Linked DNA regions of Homo sapiens. The protein of the gene in region 2 purifies or fractionates together with the protein of the main gene of each other region. This does not show direct contact. Each region holds a gene or a part of one and is shown on either strand. Other genes may lie near its edges.

Region 1 (3,845 bases), on a different chromosome or scaffold from region 2:
ATCTTTTTAATATTATGTTGAATTAGAACATCTTTTTAAAAGCCAAAAGTAATTGAAAAGAGATTAAATTGGTACACTCAACTCTCTAAACTGTGTGTATATTTTTCTTAAAGTGCATATCTGTGAGCTGACAGTAAAGACAGGCTGGCTGCTTTGTTTGACTATAGTTCTGTTTACCTCATACTGTCAAGAATGGATTTTGACACAGTATTAATATTGCTATTTTTATTGATATAATTAGCACTGCTATAAATAATTTCTTGTGCTGCCATATGTAAGTATATCATTACAATCAGCAGTATTTAGTGCTTTTCTTATATGACACCTTGAAAACAGACTGTTGGCCCAAAGAACAAAAGTGACCTCATGATATGGGAATCACTGAAAAAAACATTGCCCTGTCAATAGAGACTACTGTTTTGTGTATGACTTCACTAAACAAACTAGTTTATATTTGTTTGAAACTAAAGTTTCTCACCAATCTGCTGTTTCAATTTCACATCACACCATATTGTACCTAAAACAGGCAATCTGGATTCCTGTTGCTACTTTTTCTTCCCCCAAACAGCTCAGGAATGGGTTTGAAATACAAGGCTTGAATACATAAAGCAAAATAATTAAGACACCCAAAATTCAGAATGGGTGGGTGAAAACAAGTACACTTGAAACCATTTGTGTAACTACTAGTGGGTGGCCCACTGTGAGTTTTTGATTATATGAAAGCAAAATCAAAACATATTTTATCTTGCCTCTAGATCACATCAGCTGTGACAATAACCTCATCTGGACCTTGAATAGTTTGTTCATAAAACAAAGTAGGGTGACTGACCCAGTGCATATTCAACACAGAGTATGAAGGCCAAAAGAAAATGACAATACCATTCAAAACAAGTTTGTGGAAATTTTAGACTAGTATATTAAAACCTTTCTTTGTCTCTATCACTTGACAGATGGTTAGCCTTCACACAGCCTAGTATCTCTGGCAAAGAAATGACTGTGTCTAGCCAATAACACCCCAAATTTTGACTTAAAATGCACTGTACACATGCTTAGACTTACCTTACAAATATGAATATTAATAAACTTAGTCATGCTTACTTTATTACTATAAAAACTTGATAGATGTCAAGATTTCATCTTCTGCCGTTAAAAATACCTTCTTGAAACTCAACTATCTTAGGTGGATATAAGGTTCCATGAACTCTGCACTTCAGATTTCATTCATTTCACAGGTTGGCTGGTAATCATGCTTAAAAAAATACTTCCAAAATAACACTTCATCCCAAAAATATAAAATTTATAGAAATTTAATTAGCTTGTGTTTCTATGCTATCCATAGGAAAGTTTTGGTAACAAAGTGGCTTAAACAAAATCACCAGGGAACCCTGAATACACTCCATGTCAAGGACCACAGGCAGGACTGGAATTATTTATCCAGTATTGATATGTCTTTATTCAAAAACTGCTCATTTATAAATATATACTCACACACACATGCAAACACACATCGATCAACCATCCTTACCAGAAAACAGGAAATGGTCTTACTTTTTAACATTCAATTAGCCATTCTTCCATTTTGCTCTTTAAAAAAAATTCAACTGAGGCTGGGCACGGTGGCTCACACCTGTAATCCTAGCTCTTTGGGAGGCCAAGGCAGGCAGATCACGAGGTCAGGAGATCAAGACCATCGTGGCCAACATGGTGAAACCCTGTCTCTACTAAAAATAACAAAAAAATTAGTAGGACGTGGCTGTGCGCGCCTGTAGTCCCAGCTACTCAGGAGACTGAGGCAGGAGAATTGCTTGAATCTGGGAGGGGAGGCTGCAGCGGGCCAAGATTGTGCCACTACACTCCAGCCTGGCGACAGAGCAAGACTCCATCAAAAAAAAAAAAAAAAAATTCAACTGAAACAATGTATTCCATTAGTTATAAAGTCTGTTTCCTCCTAAATCTTCCTATTTATAGTTTTCAGATGCTGGCAAGTCCGTATACAAATAGCCAGAGGCAATCACAAACTGCTCTAAAGTGCATTAATATGTACCCTTCCTGGAAGAGGCTGATTATGTTCCAAATTAGCATAAATAGAGATCTAATGTAGGTATAAGCGTGACAAACCCTCCACGGCACAGGATGGGAGGGCTGGAGGAGGGAGGATTGTATTAAAAAAAGTTATTCCACTTAAGAACTAAACTTGTATTTGGCTAACAAAGTAAGACTCACCATGACAGATGGGAAAAAAAATTAAAAAGGAAAAACTGTTATTTGAGAACTATGAACTAGGTTTTGGAAAGGTGAGACACCCACTACTTGAAGTCACAATCTCAGCATTAAATCATATACTCATTTAACCAGGTACCAACTTTCCTTCTATTAGAAACCCAGGATTTTTACACCTACAGACTAAATGATTAAAGTATTGCTAAAATCTTCTGTAATGTTCCTCTTGCATTACAAATAAGTCTATTAAAGCAGAAAAGTGCCAATCAAATGCTTTTGAAAAAATGGTTTAAATAACAAAGCATTTTTTGCAGGTCTCTCCTCTTTAATGTCGCCTATAAACTAATTACAATAAATTTTCACCTTCTCTTGATAAAATCACAACTGAAACTAGGCATGGTGGCATGCACCTTAGTCCCAGCTACTAGGAGGCTGAGGCAGGAGGGCGGATCACTTGAGCCCAGGAGTTAAAGTACAGCCTGGGCAATAAAAGGAGATTCCCATCTCAAAAAACGAAAAAGAAACCCAGAACTGAAAAAGATTTAGGTACTTGATTTTTCAGATATGTTCCTAAAAACAAATCCCAACCAAAAATTAACAGATATTCTAGCTTTTGTTTTACCATACTTTGCTAACGGGATAATACTATGTAGGAATTTTATAGTAACTTTCAAGACACAAGATTTTTTTAATATAAAGCAACGTTTTATTAATTTCAAAGACATTATTAAAATCATGAAAAAAATCCCTATCTGTTAAAATTACCAACTGAAATATATGGAGAAAGTTTCATGACAATAACAAAAGGTACAAATAAGAAATAAACTAAGATCTTTCTTTCCTATCACTGCCAACTGGTAAACACCTTCCTCCTTCTCAAACTTCTGTAGGCTCTTTCAAACTGTAGTTCCTAAGACAAGAAAGCAGCTAGGTTTTAAAGTTTCATTAAAAAATCTCCTCCCCTAACAATCTAAAATGCACAAAGTGTGTGTGACATTAGAATGTAAGCTCCACAAGGGCAGGCAATTTTCTCTCTTGTTCATTATTACACTCCAAGTGTCTAGAACAATATGATAAATTTAACCATCCATTTCAGAAAAATATGATTATTTCAGAGACTAAAGCAAAGCCCATCAATCTCTACTTCCGTATTCCAAATGTTTTTGAAGAAGTCTCTGCTTGCCACTGATTCTGTGAAGTTATTCAAAATAATATGTAATTATTTTATAAATTATAGATCGCAGGAACTTAGCTGTAGCTTTTATTGCCCTTCTAAAACAACCTAATTATTCAGACTGGCCTTTTTTTCTAGAAAGTCCAATTTACCTAATTATTCAGACTAGCCTTTTTACTAGAAAGTCCAATTTGTCTAAAAAGTCTTCTGAAAACTTTCACTAATGCAACAAAAATGATTCGCTTAAAATATTTTTTCCTTAGATTTTCTTCCTATACCAAGTAGTCAAATTCTTATTAACAGGACAACAAGAGGAATTAGATGTTTGCGGGCCTCAAAAACTTTCTGATCCAATTATAGAAGAAACTGGCATCACATCAACTGGTAGTTCTAAACACCCCCTTCCCCAATTATAGCCCTCACATGAAAGTTTCTCTTTCCTCTAGTATTC
Region 2 (2,513 bases):
AAACATACCACACACTACACACACCCCACACTACATACACACCACATACACATACCACAACCACGAATACACCACACCTCCACATACACACACACACCACACAAACATACTACACACTACACACACCCCGCACTGTACATACACACCACATACAAATACCACACACACAAACACACCACACTGCCACATACACAAACACACTACATACACCACCACACACCACACAAACACACCACACCCTCCCACACACAAACACATCACACACACCACACACCACACAAACATACCGCACACTACACACGCATCCCACTGTCCATACACACCTCATACACAAACACATACCACACACAAACACACCACATCCCCACATACCCACACACACACTGCACAGCACAAACACACTGCATACTACACACACCCCACACACTGCACAAACATACCACATACATATCCACACAGACAACATACCATATGGTATATTATATACCACATTATATGCCACACATACAGTGGTGTCGTCACGTCACACCCAGGCATCTGGCACCAGTATGGACCAAGAGCTTATTCACATGTCACTCGTGTGGGTGTGTGTGGTGTGGGGTATGTATGTGTGGTATATAGTGTGTAGTGTACATGGTATGTTGTATGTGTGTGCATGTGTGTGTATGTGGTATGTGTGGTGTGTGCAGTGTGTGGTATGTTTGTGTGGTGTGTGGTGCATGTGGTTTGTGTTTGTGTGTATGTGGGGTGTGGTGTGTTTGTGTGTGTGGTATGTGTGTGTATGTGGTGTCTATGTACAGTGTGAAGTGTGTGTGTAGTGTGTGGTATGTATGGTGCATGGTGTATGTGGTGTGTGTTTGGGGGATTGTATTTTGTATGGGGGGTATATGTGTACAGTGTGGCGTGTGTATGTGTGTGTGGTGTGGGGTATGTATATGTGGTATGTAGTGGGTAGTGTGTATGGTATGGTATCTATGTGTATGTGTATGTGGTATGTCTGTGTGTGTGGTATGTTTGTATGGTGTGTGGTGTATGTGGCGTGACTTTGTGTGTGTATGTGGGGGTGTGGTGTGTTTGTGTGGTATGTGTTTGTGTATGTGGTGCGTATGTACAATGTGGGGTGTGTGTGTAGTGTGTGGTATGTTTGTGTGCCATGTGATGTGTGTTTGTGTGTGGTGTAGGTGGTGTGTGTTTGTAAGTGGGGGTGTAGTGTGTTTGTGTGGTGTGTGTGTATGTGGTGTGTATGTACAGTGTGGGGGTGTGTGTGTAGTGTGTGGTATATTTGTGTGGCGCGTGGTGTGTGTTTATGTGTGTAAGTGGGTATGTGGAGTGTTTGTGTGTTTTTGTGTGTGTGTTGTGTGCGTTTATGTGTGTGTTTGTGTGTGTATTGTGTGCATTTGTGTGTGTGTGTGAGTGGTGTATGTGTACTTCCTGCAGTTTCATCATGCGTGTTGTTTCTTGCACCCCCCACTATGATCAAGACACACAATTCTTCCAGCCCCACAAGGTCCCCTCATGCCACACAAGTGACTTCTAAGCGCACTTGTGGGCCAATCAAACTGTGGGTGTGCCAGGCTTGGTGCAGCTCTGGGGCTGCAACCAGCTGTCCCGGGAGCGCCTTGGGGAAAGAACCCGCTCAGGCGCTACCCAGAGCCTGGTTCCCACCTGCAGGGGGAGGAGACACAGGCAGGAGGAAAGTCCAGGTCCTCCAGGAAGCCGGGGTGGGGACCCCAATCCCGCGCCTCCCTCTGTGCCTGCCAAGCTCAAAGAGAAGGTGCTGAGAGGTGGCCGGGGCCAGCGTCTGAGACCCAGGGTGTACAGGGATGTGGTGTCATAAGCCCAAGGTCTTGGGCCACCTCAGTGGGGCCCACAGGGCAGGGGACACGCCACTGGCATCAGCACCTGGTCGGGAGTGTGGCGAACACAGGTGGGCCCCGCGCCGCGCCTCAGGGCCGCTTCTGCCACACACCCAGGCCAGCCTGCAGCAGCCCCCAGGCTGTGTTGCTGTCCTGCCAGGAGACCTGAGCTCTAGCAGGGATCGCTGAAGACTGGCCCTGCGACCTGGGACCTTTACTGCTCACCACAGGGCCTGGCCGTGTAAGTGCTCACTCCCACACCTCTTGCACAAACATGAGAACAGCCAGTTGACCTGCAGAGCTCGCGGGAGGTGAGTGTTCAGCGAGAATTATTGGAGAACTCCCCTGAGCCAAGGGGCAAACCAGCGCAACGAGACCCTCCTCCCGCAGAGCGGCTGAGCGTGGTGGGAGGGGTGGGTGTCAGCCCAGAGGCAGGCATGGGCTCCCCAAGGCGGCCGCCAGGAGAGGGGTCACCGTGAGGATTCTGCCACAGGGAAGGAGGTCCAGGGAGGCCCCAGGCACTGGGGGGAGGATGTGGAAGCTGGAGGGACGGGTGACGTGGTGCTCGGTGACATCCCGTGTGTGTGTCTGTGAGTGTGCCCACTAGTGTGAGAGTGAGTGTGAGTATGAAAGAATGTCCAGAGTGAGTGTGTGTCC

The links.
Region 1: the proteins of TWIST2 (region 2) and ZBTB20 purify together in Homo sapiens (affinity purification with mass spectrometry; one large-scale study listed by BioGRID and IntAct). This does not show direct contact.

The regions. Positions count from the first base shown.
Region 1 is NC_000003.12:115,140,776-115,144,620, forward strand, and holds part of ZBTB20 (zinc finger and BTB domain-containing protein 20), read right to left. Parts: intron 1-3,845. UniProt on the Homo sapiens protein: May be a transcription factor that may be involved in hematopoiesis, oncogenesis, and immune responses. Plays a role in postnatal myogenesis, may be involved in the regulation of satellite cells self-renewal.
Region 2 is NC_000002.12:238,906,589-238,909,101, reverse strand, and holds part of TWIST2 (twist-related protein 2), read right to left. Parts: intron 1-2,513. UniProt on the Homo sapiens protein: Binds to the E-box consensus sequence 5'-CANNTG-3' as a heterodimer and inhibits transcriptional activation by MYOD1, MYOG, MEF2A and MEF2C. Also represses expression of pro-inflammatory cytokines such as TNFA and IL1B.